Regions from separate parts of the Homo sapiens genome. Here regions 1, 2, 3 and 5 are each reported to be linked to region 4. Evidence: microRNA targets listed by miRTarBase, many of them from high-throughput screens and not tested one by one. Region 4 holds a microRNA gene; each other region holds the end of a gene's coding sequence.
What was found. The annotated mature microRNA hsa-miR-4262 reads GACAUUCAGACUACCUG and lies in region 4 at 1,916-1,932, opposite strand. An mRNA with a match to its seed (bases 2 to 7 or 8) in the 3' UTR can be bound and repressed. Matches are read on the target gene's strand: a 7mer-m8 pairs with bases 2 to 8, a 7mer-A1 pairs with bases 2 to 7 and ends in A, and an 8mer does both.

Region 1: miRTarBase lists ELK4 as a target of hsa-miR-4262. The part of its 3' UTR that is shown has no 7-base or 8-base seed match.
Region 2: miRTarBase lists CIAO2A as a target of hsa-miR-4262. The part of its 3' UTR that is shown has no 7-base or 8-base seed match.
Region 3: miRTarBase lists PRAMEF11 as a target of hsa-miR-4262. Seed matches in the 3' UTR shown: 7mer-m8 at 3,205-3,211.
Region 5: miRTarBase lists NPM3 as a target of hsa-miR-4262. The part of its 3' UTR that is shown has no 7-base or 8-base seed match.

Annotation. Positions count from the first base shown.
Region 1 is chr1:205,613,080-205,617,079 of GRCh38, forward strand. ELK4 (ETS transcription factor ELK4) reads right to left here. Exons shown (of 5, transcript NM_001973.4): 5 at 1-3,565. The coding sequence ends at 3,467. Among named protein-coding and RNA genes, the nearest start is that of ELK4, 17 kb to the right of the region's middle.
Region 2 is chr15:64,069,351-64,073,350 of GRCh38, forward strand. It overlaps CIAO2A (cytosolic iron-sulfur assembly component 2A), which reads right to left. Exons shown (of 5, transcript NM_032231.7): 5 at 3,215-3,678. The coding sequence ends at 3,581. Among named protein-coding and RNA genes, the nearest start is that of CIAO2A, 22 kb to the right of the region's middle.
Region 3 is chr1:12,821,500-12,825,499 of GRCh38, forward strand. PRAMEF11 (PRAME family member 11) reads right to left here. Exons shown (of 4, transcript NM_001146344.3): 4 at 3,106-4,000. The coding sequence ends at 3,443. LINC01784 (long intergenic non-protein coding RNA 1784) reads right to left here and starts at 1,724. Exons shown (of 2, transcript NR_146629.1): 1 at 1,537-1,724; 2 at 1,187-1,440.
Region 4 is chr2:11,835,028-11,839,453 of GRCh38, forward strand. It overlaps MIR4262 (microRNA 4262), which reads right to left and starts at 1,959; the gene lies at 1,906-1,959. All of the region lies in intron 3 of LOC105373430 (a long non-coding RNA gene), which reads left to right.
Region 5 is chr10:101,778,509-101,782,508 of GRCh38, forward strand. It overlaps NPM3 (nucleophosmin/nucleoplasmin 3), which reads right to left. Exons shown (of 6, transcript NM_006993.3): 3 at 3,970-4,000; 4 at 3,750-3,843; 5 at 3,219-3,346; 6 at 2,817-3,124. The coding sequence ends at 3,228. It also overlaps a transcript of FGF8 not described here. Among named protein-coding and RNA genes, the nearest start is that of NPM3, 2.9 kb to the right of the region's middle. RefSeq lists a promoter at 1-2,798, enhancers at 272-1,169, 1,170-2,067, 1,708-1,837, 1,915-2,765, 2,644-2,938 and 1 more and a silencer at 1,408-1,487.

The sequences.
Region 1 (4,000 bases), not on the chromosome of region 4:
AAAAAAATCAATGGAAATTTCCACCTTTGTTCGAACACATAAAGTATGCCATGAGCAATATAACATCACAAACGTACTGTGACAAACCATTAATAAAGAAGGATTACTAAGCCAGGTGTGGTGGTGCATGCCTGTAGCCCAGCTATGCAGGAGGCTGAGGCAGGAGGATCACTTGAGCCCGGGAGTTTGAGTCCACCCTGGGTAACACACCAAGACTCCATCTCTAAAAAATTAAATTAAAGGATTACTGAAAGATCTCATTTCTAAAAAAAGAAAAAGAAAAAGATCACTGAAGTCAGACATGATATTTTAATTTTGTATTTTGAAAAGTCAGTATATAAATAAGAAAAAATTATTTTAGAAATTATGTGAAAATCCACTCTTGGGTGGAGTAAATGCAATGGTTTGCCAGCACTGGCTCTGAGCCAACTGTGCACATCCTTTCTGAACTCTAAGGTGGTAGCTTGAAATCAGCCACAGGAGGAGTAACTAATTTATATCAAAGAATTTGATATAAAATTCTAATTTATATTAGAATTTTATTTATAATTTATATTTGCAGCAAATGCTACAAATTCAGCGCTCCCCCCCACCCCCACCCCAGAGATCCTGGTTGTTAAACATTTCTAGCACACGACTGAGTGGATAGCGACCAGAGCAGAAGGAAAGCTAAGGTATCAGAGAAGATGTCTCAAAACCCCATTCAATCTGCTCCCCTTCCGTAACTTAGGCTACTGCTGCCCAACAGCATTCATCCTGGCAAAGTGACTAGGGATGGATACGAGCTACAGCTACCAATTACAAGTCTCTCCAGTGAAAACTGATCTGAAGTGGTACATCACCTTTCACACTAAGAATTCTGCATATATTCAACAGAATATGAAGCTGAGACTTTTCCAGGAAGGAGGTAGTCTATAAACAGAACTGTCTGCCTCATACACCTGCAGTAAGGTTGTAAACTTTGACTTAAAAAAGGATACGCACACACACACTTCTCCAAATTAGTTGATCTCAAAGAGATAGCAGATCACCAATCTGTGACAGCCTCACACCTCTGAGAGGCTATAGATTTATGCAAAAAGGACTCACTAAAATGGTTTACTAGGAAGTTGCTTCAACTGAGTTTCAATGGTGCCCTTGGTTCCAAGGTACCTCTGTGCTGAGACAGTTAATTATTAAAAATACTGTCTGTGAAAACAAATCAATGGCTTTTCTCCTTTAATTCAAAAAGATAAAATACCTTTGTGCTTTCAAAATTTAACACATCTAGTTAAATCAACCATCTATATCTACTTATTTAATGTACAAAATGTTAACCTAATTAAAACTATTTCAAAGTGCTGCTGAGAGGTCCAATTTCAAACAGGCATGCAAACTAAATAATTTAATATGGAAAAAAAAGTCCAATATGTCTGTTCCCCATCACTATTAAACAATACCTTTCAACACTACTATTGCACATCTCAGGAACAGAACCTTCAACTGATAACCACAAATGAACCAGTAACAAGTCTCCGACACTACAGATATAAAGGCAGCTCACTGAATATGTTCCCTCTACTACTACTAAGTTAGCTAGCATAGATGTCTTCTTATACAAGAGCTTCTCTACACTGTATATAAGCACATTTAAAGTAAATACCATGCATCTGAAGATGCTAGTTTGTAACAGTGTCAGTCTGAGCCTTCAAGTTCTTACTTCTTCATTTAGTTCATGTGATTCTACAGGATTAGAAGACGAGTTTAACCGGTGGGAGAGATTGGTGGGGGAGGGTGGTAGTGGTGGTGAATGGTGACAACATATAATTTAATCCTGGACTTTAATTTTCAAAAGACTCCACTGTGATACTGATATCAATTCAGTTTGGGGAACCAACAAATCTGTACCTGGCATTGATTACCATATAGTAATATTTTAAAAATTTGGTAATGTAGAGAATAAGGCCTACATTTTTTACTACTAATATGAACAATCCAATCCCTATGTATAAGCATTCCCAAATGAACTCTGCTCTTCCCCATTTAAAAAAAAAAAGTTGAAAGAAATAAGCACATCTGAGCCTGCGCCTTTGGGAGGCTGAGGTGGGCGGATCACAAGGTCAAGAGATCAAGACCATCCTGGCCAACATGGTGAAACCCCGTCTCTACTAAAAATACAAAAATTAGCCAGGCGTAGTGGCGCATGCCTGTAGTCCCAGCTACTCAGGAGGCTGAGGCAGGAGAATTGCTTGAACCCGGGAGGCGGAGCTTACAGTGAGCTGAGATCGCGCCACTGCACTCCAGCCTGGGTGATAGAGCAAGACTCTGTCTCAAAAAAAAAAAAAAAAAAAAAAAAAGGAAATAAGCACATCTTCGCTCCTGACTGGGGAGGCTTCACTTTGAATTCTACCTTCCTAACTGCATCTTTAAAACTATCATAACCTCTAACAACCTTAAACATAAAGGAAAGGTGATAAATGTATAGTAGAAAATGAGGTAAAATGAACAGGAAAAAGACAGGTCCTTCACTTGGTTATCTTCTAATTGAGAAAACCACTACATGTTGTTTCAAGTTATCTGATCGAATCTTTTACTCAGAGATGTTTCAAATATTCAAAATCCAAGTTCATCCTCCTAAAAGTGATCATTTCCCATGCTGTATTCCATGGGCATATAATCATACCACCCAGAGGGCAAAGAGCATTTCTGTGCTAGATGTGAGGTCCCATATTCTTACTAGGTGTTCCAAAAACTGTCTTAAACCCCAGGTCTAAAAATCTTTCTATAGTGAAATAGACTAGCTCCATGCTCTGTTGACAGGTTCAGACAGGATCATACATATGGCTAAGAGATCCACCCTGAATAAAGGTAAACAAGATGCCTTTTCATGGAGTTGCTTACACGTTATAGTTCACACAAAACAATCTCCCCAGTATGACTGCTCCAATCTTACTTTGTATGAATAGGAATGATTCTTCTTCTTCCACTGCTTAGGAACAGCTCACTTTAAGTCATTCAACAGAGCACACTTAGTCCTAAAGATGCCAATTCATTTCACAAATATTTCTTTAAATAATAGATTCTAAGCATAATTTTTCCTGGCCAAAGGGTCCCAATAGCCAGAAGGAGTAACTTTGTTCTTAATTGCTTTTGCAAAGCACAGTCACTAAAGCCCACCAAAAACTTCTTCAGCACAAAGCTCAAAATATTTTTAAAGGAGAAAAGAAAAGGAAGGAAGGAAAGAAAAAGAAAAGGAAAAGACAGAGGGAGGTGGAGTTTAGACTCCAATTAAGGCATTTTTATACATATAGTCCAACTTGAGTCCTATTCAAAGAGAATCCTAAAAAGATGTTTTCAATGGGGAATGGCAAAAATCACAATAGTCTATTATCAGCATTGTAGAACTATCAATTGCTCACTTCAAATGCAATCATGTTGAATGTCTGTTTCTTCGTTCCTCGGTTCTCTCATTCCACAAGTGCATAGGTTATGTCTTCTGTAGGTCTGGGGAAAATGGGCCAGGGGTGGAAGGTCCATCCAGCCCAGACAGAGTGAATGGCCCATGACTGTTCAGTACAGAAGGAAACTGAGAAAGAAAACAAAACACATTATCATCCTATTACTCAACCCCAACTTTTACTTTCTATCCTACTCTATTACCTGAGGCAAAACACAACAGCCTTCTGTAATGGCTCACAGGACAAAGGCAGTGGCTGTTTATCATGAAAGAATATGATGTCATAACAAAAACTAGAAACAAAAATCTTTTGTCCTAACATATTAAATATTAACATTCTCCAACTTACCTCAATGGAGTAGAAACAAAGAACAACCTGTACCCTCCTTCATATCCTAAGGTACACAGGTTTACAATTAACCTCAAATGAAGGTTTTAGAAAGTTCAAGTAAATGACAATATGCACTACAGAGTGTAATTCAATTATGGAGCAAATCATAAACCCTCAAAAAGAGATCCAGAAAGGTATAAATAGCACTCATCCTAGAAAAGGGTTCCCCATCA
Region 2 (4,000 bases), not on the chromosome of region 4:
GAGATGGGGTTTCACCATCTTGGCCAGGCTGGTCTTGAACTCCTGACCTCGTGATCCACCCGCCTCGGCTCCCAGAGTGCTTGGATTACAGGCGTGAGCCGCTGCACCCAACCTAAGCCACCACGCCCGGCCATAAGCTTCTTATTTGTAACGGTCTAAGAAAGCAGTGGATAAATAATTAGTTGAGCGTGGTAGCTCTCATCTGTAGTCCCAGCTTCTTGGGAGGCTGAGGTGGGACAATTGCTTGAGCCCAGTAGTTTGAGGCTGCAGTGAGCCCTGATGGTGCCTTTTCACTCCAGCAGGGGCGACAGAGAGCGACCCTGTCTCAAAAGCAAAAACAAGAAGGTAGTGGCTCCTACTGGGGCTCAGAAAGCAATAACCCAAAATATGGCTCCTTGGTGTGCTGTGAATTAAAGAAGAATAGAAAGCCTCAGAAGCAGCCTCAAAAGCAAAGACTCTCTCTGACCATATCCTGCCCTGCTGTCTCCTGCCCCTTCCTCCTCCAAAGGGAGTCATAGAAAACAGAATCTGTCTTCCCCAAGGGAGGAAATAGAAACCAGAACCTCTTTTCAAAGCAAGCCATACCAGTCTGGGAAACATGGCAAAGTCCCATCTCTACAAAAAAATACAAAAAAAAATTTAGCTGGGCATGGTGGTATGCACCTGTGGTCCCAGCTACTTGGGAAGTTGGGGTGGGAGGATCACTTGAGCCTGAGAGGTTGAGGCTGCAGTGAGCCATGATTGTGCCACTGCACTCCAGCCTGGGCAACAGAGCAAGACCATCTCAAAAACAAAAACAGTAACAACAACAAAAAGCAAACCACAAAACCTAGAAATATTACTCTAACTTTCCCCCGCCTTTCTGTGCATGAGCTGGCCATAAAGAAATTCTCTGACCTGCCTTATCTAACAGTAGGTCATAAGACTGCCCCATACCCAGGAGGAAGGAATGCTACACAGAAAGGCCAAGAAGAATCTGAAGAGATAGTCCTTGCTGGGTTTCCCCACTTAGTCCATTACCATTAGATCGCACTTTTTGTCCAATCACATTTCTACACAATTGTCCACTCTTCGTCAAACCTAAGCAGAAAAATAAGACAGTTTTCCCTGGGTCTTTGGATTCTTCCTATCTGAAGCCTGCTGTGTCACATAAAACTTGGATTGACCACATTTGTTATGCTTTTCTCTTGTTACCCTGTCTTTTGTCACGGGGGTGTTGGCCATGACCTTTATGATGGGTGAGGAAAGGTATCACACCTTCTGCCCCTATACTCCCAAAGTTGTGAACCCTCAGGGCTCTGGGGGGTTATTAAAGGAGGGGGGAGCCCAGTGCTCAGCTAGCATTACTTGTAAAGCAGAGTTATTAACCCGGGGTCCACTGGCTCCTTAGCAAGTCTGTGAATGTCCTGGAGTCACATGCAGTTTCATGTGAGTGCCTTTTTCTCCCTAGGGAGAGGGCCCATTCCACATCTTTTATCTGATTTTCCAATTGGTCTGACTTTTCAGAAAGGATAATCATTCTTGTAAATCAGGAGTTTGCTAATGGCACACAGGCCAAATCCAGCCCAATGCTGGAATTTTGTACAACCCACAAGCTAAGATGGTTTTTATATTTTTAAACGGTTGAAAAAATTAAAAAGGAAAATATTAATTCATGACACATGAAAATTATATGAAATTCAAATTTGTGTCCATAAAGTTTTCTTGGAGTGCAATCATGCTTATTTGTTTACAGACTATCAGCTGCTTTTGTGCTACAAGGGCAGAGTTGAATAGTTACAACAGAGCATATGGCTTGAAAAGCCTAAAATATTGCCTATGTGGCCCTTTTCCAAAAACGTTTCCTAACCCTTGCCAAACATGGACCAGATAACACTACTTCTGACTATATATGTACCTCTATTTTTCACTTCTATGTAGATACCATTATGATTAATAAAGTTTAAATTCATGTTCTAATATAATTAATGCAGTAGATGTTAGTTTTTTGACCCCTCTCACTCTACTATAGAATTCCCACCATGTGAGTCTTGCTGGGGGGACAGAGTCCACCTCCCCACACCAAAGGTCAGATTTTCTTTTCTCCCGCCTTCTTGGCAGCCAGGACATGGACATGTGACTTGAGATCAGCCGACTAGAGATCTCAGCTAGGACTAGGAAGCTGGAGTGAGTCACACAAAAATGAGAAATCACTCTGGCAGTAGCGGAGACAACAGAAGTCACATCTAGCTTCCAGGAGCAGCAGGGCCAGCAGTTCAGGTGACTCCTGTAGCAATGATCCACTTGGAGTTGCATGTCAGTAGTGTCCTCACCAGACAGTCCCTAAGGCATGGTTTTGTCTTTGGACCTGCTGCCCGGCTTCTGTTTCTACTTGGCCAGGACGAGCTCAGGCAGTAGATAAAACTGAGTCCGAATCACTCACTGCCTGGAGCAGAGAGAAGCTGAAGGTCCAGGCTAATAAGTATGAACTCCAGGAGGACAGACAATGGCTGATGTATCTTTGTGTCCTTGGCACCCAAGACAGTGCCTGGGTCCAGACTTTGGGAGCTAGGCAGTTCTGCATCAGGAGTTCACTCACATGGTTTGCAAATTGCTGCTGGTTGTTGTTGGGAGGCCTCAGCTGCACTCCGTGTGGAATTCTCCACAGGGTGGCTTGAGTTCTCGTGACATAGCAGCTGGATTCCTACAGAATAAGCAATCCAAGAGCCTAAGGTGAAAACAGCAATACCTTTTATGATCTAGCCTCAGAAGTCACCCATTGTCACTCTGCCATTCTTTATTAGCCACACCCATCAGCTCCAATTCAATATGGAAGTTAACTATACAAGGGCATGAATACCAGGAAGTGAGGATCTTGGGGGCCATGTTGGAGGCTACTATACTTCACATGACCATTAACCCCTAAAACAAACCAAATGAAGGACAGATAAAGTGCGGACCATACATTTAGGTTGGTTTAATCAAAACTTCTTTGGTGGACTTCTTGATCTTCAAAATTGTGTATGCCATCTAGCCTTCTCCACATTTGTTCCTTATCTATGAAAGGGTCCAGGACTCTCCTTGGAAGGAAGGAAGGCCCAATCTTAAGGGTTCCTTTTGGTTCTCAGATCTCTGATTCTACAAAATAATCAGCAAAAATAAAGCTTTGAAGATATCCTTTAGGAGTTGACATTTACACTGGAATTTACAATTCAATAAAAACAGTGAGTCATTATAAGAATCATCTGCTTATTTATTTTACAGAGTAATGATTTAAATTGAGTACATTTGGGCACAGTAGATATTTGACACGAAAAATAGTTGTATCAGAATGAGCATCAGAAAAATAGCAACTCATCTTGCACATAATAACTAGAAAATATTATTCTGTCTGATCATTTAAGTGTTACAAATCCTGAGAATGTTATACATTGAACAAATTAGGTACTACCTTATAATTAAATCTCGCTTGGAAAGAATCCTTTAAAAAATACTCTGAGGTACAAATCACCTATGTATTAAACATGAGTCTCTGACATTATACAAAGAGTTTAAACAAATATATCAAACAATTACAGGCCAGTGGCTCTTAAAACAGCTATCAGTCAGGTTCAAGGACACACTGTTCCACAATTTCCCGTAAGTTGGGGTTTTCCATTGCAGCTGCCACTCGCTCTTTGTCATTTATCTGCTTATTGACTGAAAAATACACAGACAAAAGTTAGCAGAAGAACTGTGTCAATATACAGCACCAGACAGTATTTTTATTAGCCTGCTGAAACAAAAACTTTAACTCCTTGAGAACTTAAACCTGTTTTTGGCTAATTACTCATAATGTAATTTCCCATCTAGAAGGCAGACTTAAGAGAAAAATATCTACTAGAATTCTACTACTTAACCACATCTATTTTTTTCTTTCCAGTCTTTGTCCATACACATATTTTTATACAGTTACATTCAGAGTAAATATAATTTTGAAAATTGCTATTTTTTCCCCCATAAGCCTATATTTTAAACTACA
Region 3 (4,000 bases), not on the chromosome of region 4:
TGTAATGTTTCCTTTCAAAGATAAAATTGTATTGTTCTAAATATATTTTAAAGAAGAAATGATTATTGTTCAGTGTCTTTAAAATTAGTTTTCAAAATCTCATTTGTTTTGACATTTCAAACCAAGTTAAGTATTCTTTTTCTCACCCTCCTTGGGACGGAGTCTTCCTCTTTCACCCAGGCTGGAGTGCAGTGGTGCATTCTCGGCTCACTGCAACCTTTGCCTCCCAGGTTCAAGCGATTCTCTTGCCTCAGCCTCCTGACTATCTGGGATTACAGGCACCTGTCACCACGCCAGGCTAATTTTTTGTATTTTTCGTAGAGACCGGGTTTCATCATGTTGGACAGGCTGGTCTGGAACTCCTGACCTCGTGATCTACCCACCTCGGCCTCCCAAAGTGCCAGGAATACAGGCATGAACCACCACACCTGGCCATTAACCATTCTTAAAATATCACGTTGCATTCTTTCAAAGTTCTAATCTTTCATATACATAAATTACAACACAAATAGTTATACTCTAATAGTATTCACACTATAGTAAATTTTTTTTTCATGCTCTGTCGCCCAGGCTAGAGAGCAGTGGCGCGATCTCGTCTCATTGCAATCTTCTCCTCCCGGGTTCAAGTGATTGTCCTGCCTCAGCCTCCTGAATACCTAGGATTACAGGCGAATGCCACCACTCCCAGCAAATTTTGTGTATTTTTAGTAGAGACGGGGTTTCACCATGTTAGCAAGGCTGGTCTCAACATCCCGAGGCTGCCTCGGCCTCCCAAAGTGCTGGGATTAGAGGTGTGAGACACCATGCCCAGCCATAATAATAAATGTTATTTTATCTTTTTTTTGAGATGGAGTTTTGCTACTGTTGCCCAGGCTGGAGTGCAATGGCTCAGTCTGAGCTCACCGCAACCTCCACCTCCCAGGTTCAAACGATTCTCCCGCCTCAGCCTATCGAGTAGCTGCAATTACAGACGTGTGCCACCACGCCTGGCTATTTTTTGTATTTTAAGTAGAGAAGGGGTTTCTTCATGTTGCTCAGGCTGGTCTCAAACTCCCGACCTCAGGTGATCCACCTGCCTCAGCCTCCCAAAGTGCTGGAATTACAGGCATGAGCCACTGCACCTGGCTCATAATAGTACATTTTTAAAAACACCATAAAATATAATCCTTGCAACACTCAATTATACCATCTGGTCCGATCTATCAGCAGATGGCACCCGAGACATACGGATTGGAAATTTTGATCTTATTATGAATGAATCCAGTCCAGAAATGCCCACCCTGCCCCCTGCTGGCTCCTGGGGCTCTGCTCTTTGGGGGAATCATGATGAAATTGTGGCAGAGAGTAGAAGTTGAGCCCCATTGCATGCCCTGAGTTCTTGTTGCCTCTCTATTATCAGGAAAAGGAGGTGAGATTGAAAGATGAAAAATGCTGGGACTTCTGCTGAGAAGAGAAAAAAGAACAAGATGTATTGATCTTACTGTATGCCAGACCCCATGCCAAGCCCTAAACATGAACCATCTCATTGGATCCTACCAAGGTCCCATAAGCTGTTGGATATCATCATCCTCATTTTACAGGAAGCTGAGGCTCTAGGCTAACATCCCTGACAGCAACACCAGCCCCTGAGTACACAGCAGGATCCTTCACTTGGGTGCCCACTATGCAGGCTTCCTCACCACAGGGAAGGTCACTCATCACCCACAGGCACTTGATCGTTATCCACCCTTTGATGATGTCAGATTCCAGAACATGCTGCACTAGTCACTTCCTTCATAGGGAGAGAGGGAAGGTGTTATGAGAAAATCTCTCATCAATCTGACCTAGCTCCCCAAAAAGATGTAACTTTTAAAATGTCAGATGGAAATATTTAAAAAGTGTTACATGCCTGTATAGTTTTAGTATTTTACTTAAAGGGAATGTGGCTGTCTTTACTGGCTACAACAAGTTTAATTCAAGAAGGGCTGCTGGTCATCAGGGGAACAAGCAAGGGTTGGTGCTGCCCAGAGTCTCCAGCTAATACACAATATGGACATCCCCTTCCAGGGCAGCGGGAAGAGACTGGCTCCTTGTGCAGTGAAGCTGACATCCACCAACTAAGGCTTCTGGAAGCATGTGGAGACTCACAGGGAGTGGGCAGGGTCTCAGCATCTGGATAGCGGTGAAAGACGCTGAGAAGAAGGTGCTTTCCGTGTGGATTGGCTCACTGTTCTTGCCCAGCAATGTTCCAGGCCTTTGGTGTCCACCTAGTGTGTATTAACCCACTGAACAGCCACAGAAACTAACAAGGAGTTAACAGACATCTAAAGAAGTGAAGAACTGGAGGAGGCCAAGCCAAGCGTGGTGGTCCACGCCTATACTCCCTGCATTTTGGGAGGCCAAGGCAGGAGAATCACAAGCTCAGGAGTTCCAGATCAGCCTGGGGAAGACAGCGAGGCCTTGTTTCTACTAAAAAAAAGTATCCAGGTGTGGTGGCTCACACAGCTGTAGTCCTAGCTACTCAGGAGGCTGAGGTGGGAAGATCGCTTGAACCCAGGAAATTGAGGCTGCAATGAGGTATGATTGTGCCACTGCACTGTAGCCTGAGTGACAGGAGACCTTTAAAAAACAAAAACAAAAACAAAAACAAAAGCCTGACACAGTGGCTCACACCTGTAACCCCAGCACTTTGGTAGGCCTACTTGCGTGAATCACCCAAAGTCAGGAGTTTGAGACCAGCCTGGCCAACATAGTGAGGAAACCCTGTCTCTACTAAACATACACAAATTAGCTGGGCATGGTGGTGCATGCTTGTAATCCCAGCTACTTGGGAGGCTGAGGCAGGAGAATCATTTAAACCCCAGGTGGAGGTTGCAGTCAGCTGAGATGGCACCATTGCACTCTAAACTCCAGCCTGGGCGACAAGAGTGAAACTCTGTCTCAAATAAAAGAATGGGAGGAAACTGGTTACAATAACCAAATTTCATTTAAATGCCTTGATTTTCTTGGGCTGCATCTTATTGATTGGACAACTCAGTCAGTGCCTTTTGTTTTTTCCATCAATAACTGAAGATTCCTGAGGCTTAAACTGGAAAACAGGTTACTTAATAATAGAGGGCACCAGACAGATTCTGCTCAGTTTTCCTTTATTTCTGATTGTTTCTTTACAACCATCCATGCAAGAGTAACTCCCTCATGTATTCTCAAGCCTGAATTCCACTCTAGACATTCAGATTCCCATTTTCGACTCTACAGGATACAGGTTCCCAAAGTCCCATTGAATCCATGGCAACATTTCCCCCAAGTCCTGCCCCTGCTTGATCAGCTTTCCTTTCCCACTTTCAGAGCCCATGTGTGAAACGATGGGTTCTGTGCTCCCTTTAGGATGTACCTAAGACCTAGGTTTTAGTTTCCAAGTGTCCAGAAGAAAGCGTTTGACATACCCATCCAAATAGGCAGGCATTCAACAGCAGTATTGATCTGCCTCCAGGTCATAAAATGACCTGTCGCCATGGTCAGGGCAGTTGTCAGTACAGAACAAGATCCTCTTGGGGTGCCTTAAGTGCCTCACTTTCTTCATCAGCTCAGCCCTAATTTGAGCAAATCTGCTCCAGCAGAGAGTACCATCAGCACCATAACTTTCCTGCGGGGCAGGATACAGCTCCAGGCATAAGTTTTTGAGTATGATTGTGTGGCTCAGCAGGTTCTCCAGGGTGGCCATGCAGATGGGATTTCCACAGAAGCTGAAGGTGTTGAGCTCAAAGCAGCGGCTCAGGGCAGGCAGGATGGCGTTGACTTGGGAGTCTATGATGCCACAGTCATCTAAATCCAGGTACTCAAGGGTGGCTGCAACTTTTTCTAGGAGAATTTGGAGAGGCACAAGACTGTAATTGGTCAGTCTGATGCCACTCAGGTCCAGGGTCTTTAGTTGACTGATACTCGGGCACTGGGATAGATGCTTCAAGTCTGATTCCAAAAGCACACAGTTAGTTATTGTGAGGACCTTTAACGAGGTCTTCAG
Region 4 (4,426 bases):
CCAGTTGTGAAGGGCCTTGCAGACCACTGTAAGGGGAAAACTGAGAGGAGCTGAACTTGGGGAGAAAACCAAGTTTTCTTTGGACGTGTAGGTTTGAAAGAATGATTAGACATCCAAGAAGACAAGTCAAGTGGGCAATGGATATGCCACTCTAATTTTCACGGGAGAACTCAGGACTGACAGTGGGCATTTGGGCATGATTAGTACACAGATGGTGATGAAAGCCACAGGGCAGGATGAGCCCAGGGAGAGACTGAAGGGAGTAGAGAAAATCCAAGGTCCAAGGACTGTCCAGGTGTCCCTCCTGAGAGGAGACCTTCCCTACCCTGAAAACACCCATCACTTTTACCCCCAGGTAGACTAGACCCTCCCTGTGTGGCACCCTCACAGGACACTGACATTCTATCACTGCACCTGCCCCGCTTCTGTGCATGATTTCTTCAATGTCTGTCTCCAACCAGACATAAGCTCCTAGATCCCCTAATGCTTGGCATTGCGTCATCCACATAGTAGGCACTGCAATGACATTTTCTTTCTTCCAATGCTTTATTGTCGAGTATAATTCTGAAGTACAAAACACCACTCAGACAGACATAATAGCGACTGTTGTATCAATGCCCATTCCAGGCACTCTTCAAATTGGCCACCAGATGGAATAAAAGGGATTGTCCTTGAAGAATCTGACTAGTGAGAAAACATTATAGAGTGGAGAAGAGAGCAGGCAAGAGCTGTGTCTGTTGTCCCTGCTGGTCAATTTCTCTTTCCCCTTTTCCACCTCTTTCCCCCCGCCTCTCTTTTTGCCCTTCCTTTCTTTCTTTCTCCCTTTATTTTGTTGGCTTTTTATAGTTTTCAGTCTACTGTTTTTTTTGAAACCAAAATAACATATTCACATAGTTTTAAAAGTTGAAGATTTTTACCAGAAGACACACAAAATCCACATGGCTGGTCCTACTTGCCCCCCTCCCCCACACCCCTCCTGATTCTCATTTTCAACCCTTGCCCCTGTTTATTCTGGAATTTACTTTGATATTTTTAAGTAAAATGAACATACTACAATATTTCGATTAATGAAATTTAGGCATTCCTTATTGACTTACGATGCCAGATGAAGTTTTTGTCTTTCATATGTGCTTTTTCCCATCCCTAAGCCTTATAGTATAAAAATATCATGTTTTTTTTTATTTCTATAACTTTTGGCCTTCCCTGGAGTTAATATGCTCCATTTTTTATGGCTCATTATTTTTTCAAATTATTACTAACTCCTTCCTCAGCCCCCAAAAAATGTTATGGGAAAAAAATCTCTGTAATATTTTCCACATTGTTAAATACATGTCTCCTTTTTTCCTCCTGGAAACCCTCCCACTAAAGTGCTCTCCCCGCACATTCCAGTCTAACAGGGCTGCTCTGACCCCCAACAAGCCATCAATCTGGAGTCTTCTCTGCTTTTCTCCTTAATTGGAGGCCCTGTCTCCAAGATCCCAAATGGATTGTTCTTAATTTTTTTTTGTGGTATCCATCTCTAATTTTGTGAGTCTACCCTTCAGTCTACCCTTCTGAAGACATTAGTTATAGTGTCTGTGAAATTTTCTTCTGTTTCCTGAATTATCTCAATAGTAACTCCTCAAATTTTGCTCGTTTGCTTTGGTTTCTATGGGCGACTTCCCTCAAGTGTCTGGTAATACTTTATATCTGTTTATATGTAAGAGAGATGCACTAAAACGTTGTGGGGTTGGGAGGTGCCTGTGCAGGATGGCAGGTGTCTGCGTCTATCTGTGGGTAGGTGTGGGTATATGAGTGTGGGTCTGTGTCTGTGGGGTGTATATGGGTGTGTGTGTGGGTGTCTGTGTTGTGAACATGGGGGGTGTGGGTGTCTCTTTGTGGGGTGTGCAGGTCCTGTCAGCCATGGGCTCTGCTGCAGGTAGTCTGAATGTCCCCCCAACATCAGCACCTGCAGCTTTCCTCTCTGGGGTGGTTTGGTATCTGCAGAGAGGCTGCCTGGCCTCATGGCGGGAGGTGGAGCTTGTGGTGAACGGCCTGTCACATGCCACAGTTGGACCAGGGAAGCAGCCGAGGAGCCCTACTGCTCACTGTGCAAGTGCCTCCAATGCCCACTTTTAGTCTAGCACCTTGTCCTGCCTCTTTTCCCCAACTCCAGGACAATGCACCTGTCATTAGCCACTCCAATGCCTATATCTCAAATTCCCACTGTCTACAGAATCATTCCCATCATCATACAGATCTGCTGTGATGTGTCCCATCAGCGTAAAACCAGCCCCAACTCATATTCCTCTCCATGACCACTCATTTCTCTGCTTCCCTTTATGGCCAAATTCTTGGAAGAGATGACTATATAGTCTGCCCTTCCAATCCATGGGTTTGATATCTGTGGATTCAACCAAGCATGGGTCAAAGATATTTGGGAAAAAATCTGTCTTTACTGAACACATCCAGACTTTTTTTCTTATCATGATTTCCTAACCCATAGAGTATAGCAACTATTAACATGGCATTTACATTGTATTAGGCATTATAAGCAATCTAGGGATTATTTAAAGTACACAGAAGATGTGCATAGGTTGCATAAAGATACTATGCCATTTTATATCAGGGGCTTGACATCCATGAATTTTGAGATCCACAAGGGTCCCGAAACCAATCCACCATGGACACCAGAAGCTGACTGTCCTTGCTTTTCCCCTTCCTCCCTTTCCTTCCCTCTTGCACCCACTCCAAGCTGACCTTTGGCTCCCACTCCACGGTACCCACTCAATGTCTTCAATGAACTCCAAGGGACAGAGCCAAGCAGTTTAGTCTCCATCTTACTTGGCCCAACAGTCAGGGAGGAATTTGGTTATGATTTGTCTCTTGCTCCTTCCTCAAAGTCTGGAAGACGTTTCCACCCAGGGAACAGGGAAAACAGGGCAATGGACGGGCAGCAGTGTGGCTGGAGGACTGGCTCTGAAGTGCAGCAGGGATGCTGTTAAGGGGTGAGCAGGGCCACATCATGAGCCAGGTGGCCTGGCCTCATTTCCCATGCACTTGGTGGCCACTAAAGGGAGGAGGAGTGGGGAATGGCAGAGTTGGGTGATGCTTTAGAGGGATCACCCAGGTGGTGGTGGTGACAGATGGGAGGGGCTGGGCAGGAGCAAGGAACCTTACCTGAAGACTCCAGGTGGCTCAGAATGGAGAAACTGAAGGTCCAAACTGAGGCAGTGACACAGGCATGAAGGAGGGGAGCCGAGGAGAGCCGGGGAGGAAGCTGGGATCACTTCCAAGTCTCTAGCACAGACACATGAGTGCATGGAGGGCCCATTACAGAGTCCAGCAGCCCAGAAACACAGAGCCGGCTGAGGCCTGCATGGAAGTCCAGAGGTCCACCTGAGGCAGGTTGAGTGGTTGACCCTGAGGAACAGCCAGCGAGTGGCCAGTGAGGCAACGTGTTCAGTCTGGACATGCCTCATTGTTCCAAACAAGGTGACAGGGGAGAGGCAGCTCCTGCTGGAGAAGCCGCTGGTGAAGGTCCACTCTGCAGAGTTTCAGAATGGTGCCAGCCCTTCCAGGCTGCTCCTTGTCCATTCCCTGCCCCGTCAGCCAGCCTTGGCTGCCCTTTCAAGGACACATGAAGCCACAGGAACAGGGAGGGCCAGTCTGCGTGGTGAGGTGACCCCTGACACATGCTGAGGTCTCCCCTGTGCTGGGAGGCTGGAGGGCATGCCTCGGCCTCTCTGGGGTCCCCAAAGCACAGCTCTAAGTGCCCATGTGCACCCAGCAGGCTTCTGATCTCTCCCCTCCCCACACCTGGCTGAGTGGGTACCTGGCTGTCTTCATACCTATAGACAGGTAGGTGCAGTGCCTCATTTGGCCTCAGACCCAGGTGTGATCTCCATACCAGCTCTTCTTGTATTTTTCCAGAGTGAATGGGGGTTGTTGACAACTTGTCCAGATGAGTGAAACTGACATTTGCTTCCTATGTGCCTGTGTATTCTTTAAACAATTTTTAAATATTTTTAATAAAGGAAAAATGAATATATTTATGGTGTAAAACGTGATGCTTTGATATTTATATACTTTGAGGACCGTGATAATGTATTATATTCTTTAAAACTGCTAAGGGAGTAGATTTTATTTATTTATTTATTTATCGAGATGCAGTCTTACTCTGTCACCCAGGCTGGAGCGCAGTGGCGTCATCTCAGTTCACGGCAACCTCTGCCTACCAGGTTCAAGCAATTCTCATGCCTCAGCCCACTGAGTAGCTGGGATTACAGATGTGTGCCACCACGTGTGGCTAATTTTTGTATTTGTTTTTGTAGAGACAGGGTTTCACTATGTTCACCAGGCTGGTCTGGAACTCCCAACTTCAGGTGATCCGCCTGCCTTGGCCTCCTAGAGTGCTGGGATTACAGGCGTGAGCCACCATGCCCAG
Region 5 (4,000 bases), not on the chromosome of region 4:
CAGAGAAGATGGGCGTCCTGGGATCTGAAGGGTCCGAGGTCAAGTTTCAGTCCTGTCCCAGCCTCTGCCAGGGAGCCTGTGCTGGACCAGGATTCCTTTACATTTGGATTTGGAGACCCTCCTGAGAAGCGGACCCTCACCTAGTTCGTTGAAATTCTCATCTCCCCAAAAGTCCGTTTCTCTGGGGGAGAGGAGCAGATGGGGACACCCCGGGAGCAAGCACCTGGCTCTGCCCTGGCACGCCCCGTGACTGACAGATGCAAATGTCCCGCCGGGCCCCCGCAGGCCGCTCCCTCCCTTGCTGGCTCGCCCGCCTCCCGGCCAGCTCCCTCCCTCCTTTATCTTATCAAAGCCCGGTAATTACAATTGCTATTTTGTTTCCTCGAATCTGCAATCAGAGCTCCCTGGCCCAGATGAGGGAGCGCCTGTCAACCTGATCGCTGAGTGACAGCCCGGCCACCTTTCCTGGCCGCCCCCACACTCCGCAAACACAAACACACACACGCACAGACACAAACTCCCTCGCCTGCAAACACAAACACACACTCCTCGCCAACACAAACGGCCCATCTCCGCAGACACGCCCTCGCCTGCACCCAGACACACTACTTCAGCCTATTTCCAAACGCACCCCTCGATCCCAGCCCATCCCCCGGCCCCTCCAATCCACACCCGCCGGAGACCGCAGCTCGCTCCGACGCGCGCTTCCTGCGCCGGGCGTTCAAAGCGCCGCGGACTCACTGCCGACCGTTCAAATGCAAATCGCCGAGACTACGTTAAGCACTTCGGCCACTGTCTGGGAGTCGTCTCCCTCGGCCCCCAAATAGAAGCCTGCCCTTCCTCCAGCAGTCGGCAAACCCCGGCGTATGCCTTCATCCCCCAGGGGTCTGAGGCCACAGTGAGCCGGCAGCGCTCCTACTGTGCGCTGAAGGGCAAAGAAGAGGGCTCGAGGAGAGGCTGGGGCGAGGAGAGAGGAATAAACCTTGCCCAGCTGTGTCCGCGGGGCGCCCCAACCGGCCGAGAAACTCTTGGGCCGAGAGGCTGATGTGGATTGGGCCCCCACTGCGGGCAGGAGCGTGCTCGGCGCAGGCCCGCGCCCACCGGGAGACCTACCCGGAAAACCGGCGAGAAATGCAAGGAGCGATCAGTGGCATCGCGGGGGGTGGGTGGGGTAAATATTGGGGCGGAGCCGCGCAGGGGGTAGATGGGTCAGCTAGGGAGGCCTCCCAGGAGAGAGGACTCAGCCAGTCTCCCGCTCCTCCTGCCAAGCACGTGCCGAGGACTTTGGAGGCTGGGGCCAAGAAGAGGAAGGGAAAGAGGAGTGAGGGCCACAGCCAGACTTCCCCACTCCAACTCAAGTCGTTCGAATGAATGAATGAACGTATGCACGCATGCATGCAAGCCTCAGTGGCATTCCCCCGCCTTCCGCCCAAGATTCGGCCGCCCAGAGCAGTGGCGGGACTCGGAGGCCCCGGCCCCACGGCGCCCGCCCGGAGCCTCTAGAGGCCAGGGAAGCGGTACGACCACGAGCGGCTTCAACCTCGCCCGCCAGAGGGCGCCAGCCCCGACTTCCCTCTCCCTGCCGACCGCGCTCCGCAGCGAGACCCATGGTTCCCAGCCAGGCCGCCCCTCCGCCGGGCTCCCCAGGGAAGCATTTTTAGCAGCGCCCTCCTGGATCGGAGAAAGGCGCCTGCGACCCAGATCACCGCAACACAGACGGGCGTCATCTCCCTTTGTCCTCAACTTGAGGAAGAGGGAGGTTGGAAACTGGACCCCTAGTTCCTCACCACGGGCTGGGGGAGAACCTCCTTCACTAGGGATGCGCTGAAGAGCGTGCGGGTCGGTACTGCGGACGCAAGGTCTTCAAAGCTGACCTCACCTGCCCCAGAACCACCAGCCCGCGATATCCCGGGGCCCCTCCCCCTTGACTAGAGGCTGGGAGTGGGAGTTGGCCTGACCCCCATCAGGCCCTGTTCTCTGTCTATCCTCAGCCTGTCTGGCCCCAGGTTGTCTGGGGAGGCAATGTTTTGTTTGTTTGTTTGTTTGTGGGCATTGACAACCCTCCCCCCACAACCAACACAGCTGCTGAACTGCTGACCCCAGAGCTGGTCACATACACTCATCCTCAAACCAGGTGTGTCAGTTCTTCCTGGCACAAAGGCAGCCAAGTGCCAGAACTACCTGATTCCAGGCACCAAAGACCCCCAGACCCCACGGTGTGTGGGGGACAAGAATCCCTTAGTCCAGGAGGCAAATTCCCTGGGGCCCCTTTCTGCCCCCATATGCCAGGCCACCCGGATTCTGGTTTCCCTGTCACCCAATCTGGCCAGTCCCCTCCATCTGGCCCCCGGAGTCAGGTTTCTCTAAGGGCCCAGCCCTGCTCAGAGACAGCCTGCAAGGCTCAAAGGAGGAGCGAAGCCTGGTCCCGCCCTGCCCTCACAGGCCCTCTCTGGGCCAGAGACCCTCGTGGGGCTAGGGACGCGCATTCCTCAGGCTGCCTAAGCTCGCTTATCTGCCCCCCTGCCCATCAGCCGAGTGCTGACAGAGGCCCAGACCCCTTGTTTGGATGCTGATAACCTCCTGCGATGACCCTCTCCCACCTGCAGAGACTGGGAATGGGCTGAGTGTTGGGAGGTCCCCTTCCAGCAAGGCAACTGGGGCCCAGGCCCCAGGTCCTAGCCCAGGGCCATGAGGGTAGAGGATCCCACAGTTCTCCACCCTCCCCCAGGCCCAGGGCCACGCTGGGTGCTTCCACAGTGCCACCTGGCGGTCCCTAGGGAAACATCACCCAGCACAGGAAGAAGCCACACAAGAGCTGCAAAAACTCCACACCACTTTATTTCAACCTTTATCCAAAAATGTAAAAACTATTAAAAATGTGTAGCTCTGAGCTTCAGGCACTAACCTCCAATTCTCACAGGCAGGTGGGAAGGGAGGCCCCGGGCATGGTGAAAATCAGAAAACCACGGCTGTGTGGAGCACAGGCCCTCTCCTAGCACCAAAGACCCAAGTCCCTCCCACCCAACCCCCACCCAAGCTCTCCTCTTCAAGGAAGAAATATTTACAATTGTTGAAACTTGTCAGGGAACAGGGTGCATGGCGGTGCATGGCACATGGAGCTGACCTGAAAAGAGGAAACAAGGAATCAGCATTTAGGCCCTCACCTGCTTCTCCTGCCCCTTCCCAGAGCCTGCTAGGCACTTCTCCCCGCAACTCACCTAGGAGGGCTAGGGCCTGCCCCCCTGCTTTTTGGCAGGAAGGATGGGGCACAGCTCAACTTCTTCCTCATCACTGTCCTCTTCCTCTTCCTCGCTCTCCTCCTCAGAAACATCATTGCTCATCGTAACTGGTGGACACACAAGCAGTAGAAGGATGGGGTGTTAAGACCAGACCGTTTCACACCGCATGCCATTTCTTCACGCCGTGGTGTTAGGCTTACAGGGACCATGACCTCCCAGTGCTTATGGGCTAGGTGGGAAGAACCTCAGACCCTAAACTGGGTCACAAAGAGCCAAAGGAGTCTTCATTATTGGAGCTGGAGAAGTTGGGCCATGTTCCATGGAGGAGGTAGGCTTGAGTAGACGGAAAGGAGAGGGCATGTCATGCACAGGGCACAGCGTGGAGGGCACACAGACCTGTACAGGGCTGCACTGGGAGATGAGGGTGGGATGGGGCAGGAGTGCGGAGTGGGGGAAGCCTGATGGGAGAGTCCACTGGAAGCAAAGGAGAGGGCCCTCCCCTCTTCTCACCAATCTGGTGCCGCCCAGTGATCCGCACAGGGCCAGAGCCCGACTTCAGGCGGAAGGTTACAGGTGGTTGGAGCTGGAAGTCATCCAGACTGAGCTGGGAGGAAGACAAGGATGAAGGCCTGGCCCACTCCTAGCCCACCCCACACTGTAATGAGTGCTAACGTCCTCAATCCCCTCACCACCACCACCACCACCACCAAGGCAGAGCTGGGGAACTCACCATGGGTTGGCAGGACAGCTTGAGGTTGGCC